Regions from separate parts of the Homo sapiens genome. Here region 2 is reported to be linked to region 1. Evidence: microRNA targets listed by miRTarBase, many of them from high-throughput screens and not tested one by one. Region 1 holds a microRNA gene; the other region holds the end of a gene's coding sequence.

What was found. The annotated mature microRNA hsa-miR-32-5p reads UAUUGCACAUUACUAAGUUGCA and lies in region 1 at 3,064-3,085, shown strand. An mRNA with a match to its seed (bases 2 to 7 or 8) in the 3' UTR can be bound and repressed. Matches are read on the target gene's strand: a 7mer-m8 pairs with bases 2 to 8, a 7mer-A1 pairs with bases 2 to 7 and ends in A, and an 8mer does both.
Region 2: the mRNA of ZNF695 is a reported target of hsa-miR-32-5p. The part of its 3' UTR that is shown has no 7-base or 8-base seed match.

The regions. Positions count from the first base shown.
Region 1 is chr9:109,044,955-109,049,356 of GRCh38, reverse strand. It overlaps MIR32 (microRNA 32), which reads left to right and starts at 3,059; the gene lies at 3,059-3,128. All of the region lies in intron 14 of TMEM245 (transmembrane protein 245), which reads left to right.
Region 2 is chr1:246,982,797-246,987,198 of GRCh38, reverse strand. It overlaps ZNF695 (zinc finger protein 695), which reads left to right. Exons shown (of 4, transcript NM_020394.5): 4 at 1-1,876. The coding sequence ends at 232. All of the region lies in intron 4 of ZNF670-ZNF695 (ZNF670-ZNF695 readthrough (NMD candidate)), which reads left to right. Among named protein-coding and RNA genes, the nearest start is that of ZNF695, 23 kb to the left of the region's middle.

The DNA.
Region 1 (4,402 bases):
GCTGTAGTCCCAGCTACTTAAGAGGTTGAGGTGGTAGGATTGCTTGAGCCTGGAAGATGGAGGCTGCAGTGAACTTGGTCACACCACTGCACTGCAGCCTAGGCAACAGAGTAAGACCCTATCTCAAAAACAAAACAAAATTTAACAATTCAAAGCAGTTTTGATAACCTTCTCTCAAACCTGAGATTTACAAAGATGTAATGGTCTATCTCCATCAGCTTTCCATCAGCAGGATCTTAGACTAGCTGTTAGCATCATGTCACTTGCTTAAGAGAACCCCCGCTTCCACCACCCCCATCTCCAACTTCTTTCAGAACCCTCTGCTGTCAGGAGTTTTAGCTTTGCTCCAGAAGGAGAGTAGGTGGACTTCCTGTTTCTCCTCTGTCCTACAGCCAAGCTGTGCCCTCTGCAAGGAGTAGGTTGGATACTGGAAATGCAGAATCGTTGTTTATCTCTTAAGTTATAGGCTCTGTATGCACTGGAGGTTCTGGCCAGAAACTTTTTCGTTATGACTTCTGGCATCCATGTATTTACAGGCTTTGTTTCTGAATGAACTTCTTCAACTTTTCCTCTGTATAAGCTCTTTCCAGGTCGTTGGCTCTTGGCTTCCTTTATCTTTTCCTCTTCATCATTTCTGGTAGGGAGGACCCTTTTGCAGAGCAGGCCTGTCTCAGCCCCTCCTGTAATCCCTGTCATCATTCCTCATTAACAAGACTCAACTACATTTTTACTTCTTATGAATACGTCTCAAATTAAACCCTCCTATTGTCCATTAGAGCTCCTTTTTCTAATACGTTGTTAACCAGGTGGTCTTAAGCATCTCTTGAATAGCAAATCTTTGGCTGGCATTTCTGTCTCCACATACTTTTAATAAATATTGTCTGGAACTAGTCTTCCACAGAAATCTTGATTTTTTTTTTTTTCTCTGATAATTGCACCTGATTGATCTTGGTATATTTTTTCACTGTGTTCATGTAATAGCTAGGGAGAATCCCATTTGATTGTTAGAAAACCTTCAGTTACATTCAAACAGGATGCATGCTCCTAAAATACAATGTCTGTAGAACTTTTGCTAAGTTCTCTCCCCTTTTCCTACTAGCAAGGCCTGGGTAAGATCTTCACCAATACCTTGTTTCCGCGATTGGCTGTCAAGTGGGATTAAAAAAAATGCTCTTAACACCTGTATAGTGTCCTCAGGTATCCACACAGGGGCCATCTATAAAGATTCCAGATTTGGGAGTATATTATCCAGTGTAACAGCAATTGGGGTGAAGCTGTTTCGAAGGAAGTACCAGCTATAGCTTCCCTCCTAAGTCCTATATGACCATTGACTATCATCTTTGCTGAATAAATGAAATGATGAAAATTCTAGCAATAGATAATCTTTTGTTTATCTAGGTGATATCTTTCTGACTCAGAAAAGCTTTTGCAAATGCTCTACCAAAAAGGAAGGCTAATCTTTTATCTTCCCAGTGGGGTAAAGCTATTTATTGTAGCAGCCATATCAAAGGCTGGTAGGAATTCTCCAGTCAGTGTGGCTTAAGCCAAGCTTTGCAGAAAAATATCTACCTTGTTCATAAAGAACTTCAAGAAAGATGATGCTTCCATTTTCCTCAAGTAATCTTCATTGTTACTGACTCTTATTCTTAGAAAAATGTTTCTATTTTCACATCACAGCTTTTGAATTTTCTCTTGTTCTGCTTTCTTACAGCAGACCATCCTCTAAATGTCTGTCACCTTTTTTCATACCAAATATGCCACCTTTTTTGTTTTAAACTTAATTCCTAGCTGTTGTGTTTGCCAGTCAGTGGTAAGTAAAGCTGTTAGTCACACCTAGGTTCAGCTGATTGAAAGCACATACTCTGTTACACCATGATGCCTTCTTTCAAGAGGAGCTGGTTAGGGAAGATCATGACTTATATTTGTGGACATAAGAGGGTGGCATTTAGAAATTCAGGTCTTTGGCTCAGGAGAGAATTTGAGATTACAAAGAGTGCTGTCATCTACAGCGATATGAGGAAATCAGTCTTTTACAAATTAGATTCGACTTCCCTTCTTGGGAGTGCATACACTAATTATGTATTATAACAGTAGCTTATGTCTTGGTTCCATAGTATACTGGCATTTAAAAACCATTTGTTTTATTATCACCTTATTTTAAATACAGAAAAAATTTTAACAACCTTTGGTACCAGAACTATAATCTAATGGTTCTCAGAATTGATAGATTTTTATGAGTCTGATAAATATGGTACAGACTAAAGAATGGGTTATGGCCTGAGACATTTTTCTAACCAAAGCTATATCAAGTTATGTAATTTTAAGGCTATAATTCAAGGTGTTTTTTTTGCAGTTTAAGTTCCTAGGGCTGTTTCTTTACTGGCTCAAATTCAAGACTTAAAATGTACAGATTTTACAGAGATTCCTCTGAAGAGCTTTCTCCTGTGGAGAAGATGGTAGTGAGTTCTCTTTCTAAGAGCTCCTGTTGGATTTTTCATCCTGAAGGTTTGTGTTGAAGAGGCAATATGTTTCTTCATGGAAAAAGATTTTGAGGGAAAAATAAGTGGTTATTTATAATTTATGAATGACTATGAAAATATTGTAATGTCCTCAAAGTGCAGTTTAGCCTACAAATATCAGTGATACCAACTTTTATAAGCATCAGTCATTAATCATCATCTATGTTGCAGCTAAGTGGAAATCATTACATTCATTTATATGATCTGTGAATAAGTCAAAAATGGAATTGAAATTGGGGGTTAATTGCATGACCAGACAGTGATAGTGTCTGTTCGTGAAGCTTTGCCTTCTGAAGTATGTGGTTTCTTTATGATCACTATCTCATTGAAGTTTTGAACCTTACTCATTATTTTGATTCTGAATAAGTATTCTTCTCAGTTGAATACATTTGCAATTGGGTTTTCATTTCATGAAGTTTTGAGTCAGTGGCATGCATCCTTTATCCCCAGACCATTTTCCTCTCTTCAGCAGCATGTTGTCTCCTGAATGTATACATCACACCCTTCTTCCCTGATGCTCCCATTCTGCTTGCTCTGGTGGAGATATTGCACATTACTAAGTTGCATGTTGTCACGGCCTCAATGCAATTTAGTGTGTGTGATATTTTCACATGAGTGCATGCACACGGGTATGGCTCTTGCTTGCTGGGATTACAGCTTTTCAGTGCCAGTGGGTGGGTGTCCTGATGAATTAGATAAGACAGTGTGTATGCCATGCGATTCTCATTTGGAAAGTGAACATGCTTCCCATCGGTACCTTCCAATTTTGGAGAATTAAAAGTATTTGGATTAAAAAAAGTCAGCAATGATCATTTAGTAAATCAGTGTTTCCATTTTTTACTTTGAGCAAATGAAATATTTATTACAAATTCTCATTGATTTAAGAGTATAAACAATATTTAAATGTATAAGGAAGAATGTAAAGCTGTAAGAAAATGTATTTTCATTTATTTGAAGAAATCTCTCCCAACACTGGAATAGAGAAGCAGAAATCTCTTATGCATATTTGGGGAAATTAAATTAACTGGAGTTCTTAAATAATAATCAAGACAGTAAAGGTATGCTTAACCTACCTGATGAAAGATTCATCTCATAAACTTAAGTTTCCAAGGTAAATTACCTTAAAAATGTGTCTTTTACTTTCTCATTGTGATGCTTCGAAAACTGCTAAATTCATTTTAGTGGGCTAATAATGGAACTAGTTTTGAAATACACGTTTACTATTTGCCTATGTAATTGAAACAACCCCTTGTTATTTTTTTAGTTAGCATTAGAGTAAGCATCCACAATCACTAGGCATTGTCAAGGACACAAAACCATGTATTACTGTATGAAAATATTGAATTAATATTTACTACTACCATAGCCTCCAGATGATCTATTGTGATGCTGTCATTGTATGTTTCTGTGTTTCACCACTGTTTTGGAGGGTGAGAATGGAAGAATTCCACGTAAGCAGCTCATCCCCTGTGCCCTTCAGCAGCTCGGCCGTTCCCCTCATGCTGGAAATCTAATGTCAGCCAGGTTGCTATATGACACCCTGTGGAGCTGGGTTTCCAGGGCAGATTAATCAAGAAAGGGAAGATGTGACCTCTCAAGGGAGGTTGGGGCTGGGAAGGGGTGGGTAGAGAGAGATTTGTTAAAGGATACAAAAATTACTTAGAAGGCATAAGTTCTAATGTTCTACAGCACTGTAGAATGACTGTAGTTCAACAATAAATTATATCATTTCAAGTAGCTAGAAGGAAGATACAGAATGCTCCCAACAAAAGAAATGAGGCCAGGTACGGTGGCTCACGCCTCAAATCCCAGCACTTTGGGAGGCCAAGGCGGGCAGATCACCTGAGGTCAGGAGTTCAAGACCAGCCTGGCCAACATGGAGA
Region 2 (4,402 bases), not on the chromosome of region 1:
TGAATGTGGCAAAGCTTTTAACTGGTTTTCATATCTTACTAATCATAAGAGAATTCATACTGGAGAGAAACCCTACAAATGTGAAGAATGTGGCAAAGCCTTTGGCCAGAGCTCACACCTTTCTAAACATAAGACAATTCATACCAGAGAGAAACCATACAAGTGTGAGGAATGTGGCAAAGCCTTTAACCACTCTGCACAACTTGCTGTACATGAGAAAACTCATACCTGAGAAAAACCCTACAATTCTAAACAATATGGCATAGTCTTTAATACCTATTCACAACTTCACAGCAGAATATTTTTACTGAATAAGAGTGTTACAAATGTAATGACTGTCAAAAGGCCATTTACAGTCTATGAGCCTTTGAGTGCACTAAAATGTTTAGGCTACGAACAATACAAATAGACCGGTTCAACACCTCCACTTATATCACAGCTCTTACTGTACACAGAAGAATTTATACTGGAGGGAAACCCTCCAGTTGCTCAAACTGTATTCAATTTCAAAGACTTTGTATTGGAGAGAAACCCTACAAATGTAATAAATGCAGAAACAACATTTGTTCAAAAAATATACCTCAGAAAACACCAGAGTGTTCACACTAAAAACTGTTTTACAGATGCAGTAAATGTGAAAAAATGTCTAATCAAAAATTACATCAAAACACATCCAAGAATTCATAGTAAAAAGCACTAAGTCACTGACACTTTCAGACATTACTGTAAATCTGAGTGTTGGTTATAGAGAATAATTCAAAGTTAAGTTAAAGTAAGTAGGAGATTCACCTTTTGGGGAAGTTATAATTACATTTCAAGTATACCTTTTGGTGCCAGGCACGGTGGCTCTTTCCTATAGTTGCTGCACTTTTGGATGCCGAGGTCGGGGGATTGCTTGAGCCCAGGAGTTTGGGACCAGGCTGGGCAACATGGCAAAACCTCATCTCTACAAAAAGTAAAATAAAAGCCAGGCTTGGTGGCACATGCCTGTTGTCCCAGCTACTTGGAAGGCTCAGGTGGGAGGATTGCTTGAGCCTGGAGGTTGAGGATGCAGTGAGCTGCTATCTGGCAACTTCACTCCTGCCTGGGCAACAGAGCAAGACCCTTTCTCAATAATAATAATAACAACATAATAATAAAGTATACTCGGTGCACTGAAAGAGTTTTAGCTTTTTTGAAAATCACATATTTATGTAATTCAAGTCTTAAATCACTTGATACCATGCCTTCATTTCTAGTGTTTATGTGAAGGCATGAGGCCTACTGTTGCTACATGAAAGCTGTGAGAGTTTCTTCTATATTCGGGTGGGTGTTGTTCATATCCTTTTCTTTGGAAGATTATGGACATTGCATTGTAAGCTTCCTGAAGAAATTTAACTGGAGAGGCTCTTTGTACTTGTCTTATAATAGGGTTGTAAGTGATTCATGAGATAGGTCTTCAGAGTACTATTCTGCATTATATTTAAGAAAGAAACATTTGAGTTTTACAAGTCAGTTGTTTTTCCTATTGCACATTAAGGTAATAAAATTCAGTGGATTTTGAAATGCTCTTTTTAGACTGTTTGAACTTAATTTGTTTTAATAAGACATTGTTTTAATGTCTTTGGACCGTTGTACATTAAGTGATGCGTATCCTACCACCAACGTTAACCTATCTCACCTTAGTTACGGTTGTAGGTAACAAATGGTAACAATACAATAGTGGGTAACATGGTGGAATAGTATCTCTAATGATCCCTTCTCCCAGTGGCATTAAACTTCAAATAATTTGAAAAATATTGTTCCCACACGTTACACCTTCATTCTGTTTGCTCTTTTTGTAATGACAGTGTCATTATTAAGGCTATAATAAAGCCTATATAGGATTATAATCAAAGACCGTGTATTTCTGAATCTTGAAGGACTATTCACAAAATTTTATTTACATTTTCCTTTTAACATGTGGCTTTTCTGGCCTGCAAAACATATACATGCTTTTAGTTTTGGTTTACATGGAGATAAATACATAAATATACTACTCTAAGGATAAATGTTAGGTGTAAGACAGTTATGAAGCAAGTAATGTGTTTGAAGTAAGTGCATACCTGTTTTCAGAATAAGAGAAAAATGTTGGAACCAAACATAATTTCAAAAGTATGGATAATTTATTAGCAAACTAGAAACCTCAAAAATGTCGAAGGCAAATCTGTTTTCTCTGCTTTGTATTGAAGGCATTTCTCTAAAATCTTATTTTGCAGAATTTCCACATGAAATTCCTGTTTTTACTTTTATGTTGCTCATGCTAGAGCTAACGTATAATTTTCTTGTTCCAAAATTCATGAAGAATTTCTTATGTGATCTTCTCAGGGATTATAATAATGATTTTATGAAACTTATTGGTGCTTAAAAAATAATCTGAAGATGTGAATAATTCCACAGTGAGTGTATTAATTTTCATTGTACTTAATTAGTACATTTCCATTTTTCCATTATTAGAGAACACTATTCGAGCCAACTTTTTTTGTTATTGTTTCTTTCACTTAATTGAGTAATTGAGTTTATTGACTCTATTGGGCAATTTGTTCAGATAAACACTTTGGAGGCTTTATAAGTCATAGGGCTATTTGGCATATAAATGAAGTGAAGAAACATAACGCAGTGCCAGATGTGTAGTAGATGTTCCATAATTAACAATAAATATTCTTTTTGGAGTGAAGTTGTGGCTCCAGGTAAGAGATTGGAAATATCCAGGATGAAGACCTGGCATTGATTCTGCATGCAGAGAAAGGACTTCTCTACCCAGGCTGCACAACTGACTCTCTCTGAAGAGGAATTCTGCTTTTATTTCCAAATTATCTCTGTTTTTTTGTGGTCTCTTTTTCTTTCTTCTCAACTACTTATGCATTCCAGCTCTCCTCCTTTTTTTTTTTTTTTTTTTTAAAACCTGTGTTATGGCTACACTTTCTCACTGTTCTCCACACAATATGTCATCTTATATAGTACTTTGTACATTCTAACAGGAAATTTGGACTTTCTCTTTTTCTTCTTCTTTTTTTTTTTTTTTTTTGGAGACATGGTCTCACTGTGTCACCCAGGCTGGTGTGCACTGGTGTAATCTCGGATTACTGCAACCTCTGCCTCCCAGACTCAAGCAATCATCCCACCTCAGCCCCCTGAGTAGCTGGGACTAGAAGTGTGCACCCCCACTCCTAGCTAATTCTTTTTTTAGTAGAGATGAGGTTTTACCATGTTCCCAGGCTTGTCTTGAACTCCTAAGCTCTAGTGACTGACCTGCCTTGGCCTCCTAAAGTGCTGGGATTATAGGTATGAGCCACACCTGGCCTGGAAATTTGAAATTTTTTAATGTGATGATAGATTTTTGTTTGTTTGTTTGTTTGTTTTGAGACTGAGTCTCACCCTGTCACCCAGGCTGGAGTGCAGTGGTGCAATCTTGGCTCACTGCAACTTCCACCTCCTGGGTTCAATCAAGTCTCTTGCCTTGGTCTGCCAAGTAGCTGCGATTACAGGCACGCACCACCATGCCTGGCTAATTTTTGTATTTTTAGTAAAGATGGGGTTCATCATGTTGGCCAGGCTGGTCTTGAACTCCTCACCTGAGGTGATCCACCCACCTCAGCCTCTCAAAGTGCTGGGATTACAGGCATGAGCCACTGCGCCCAGCCAATAGATTGACTTTTAACTGGAGAGTTTGAGGTCATTTATATTTTACAAAACTGACATTGTGATCATAGCTTACTGCAGTCTCAACCTCCCAGGCTCAGGTTATCCTCTCATCTTAGCTCCCTGGGTAGCTAGGAGTACAGCCACATGCCACCATGCCCAGCTAATTTTTTTTATTGTTTTGTAGAAATGAAGTCTCACTGTGTTTTCCAGGCTGATCTCAAGCTCCTGCGCTCAAGCAACCCCCCTACCTCAGCCTCCCAAAGTGCTGGCATTACAGGCATGTGCCACCATGTGGCCCAGCTACAAGCAACACATTCTTTTTTTTTTTTTTTGAGACAGAGTCTCGCTCTGTCACCCAGGCTGGAGTGTAGTGGCGCGATCACGGCTCACTGCAAGCTCTGCCTCCCAGGTTCATGCCATTCTTCTGCCTCAGCCTCCCAAGTAGCTGAGACTGCAGGCGCCCGCCACCACACCCGGCTAATTTTTTTGTATTTTCAGTAGAGACAGGGTTTCACCGTGTTCCCCAGGATGGTCTCAATCTCCTGACCTCATGATCCACCTGCCTCGGCCTCCCAAAGTGCTGGGATTACAGGCGTGAGCCACCGTGCCCGGCCAGAAAATTGTTTTTAAAATAAAAGACACCATTGATAATTGCATCAAATATATGGAATACTTAAGTCTATAGCTGACATAAAATATGTAAGAGTTGTACGGAGAAAATTTTCAAACTTATTTGAGA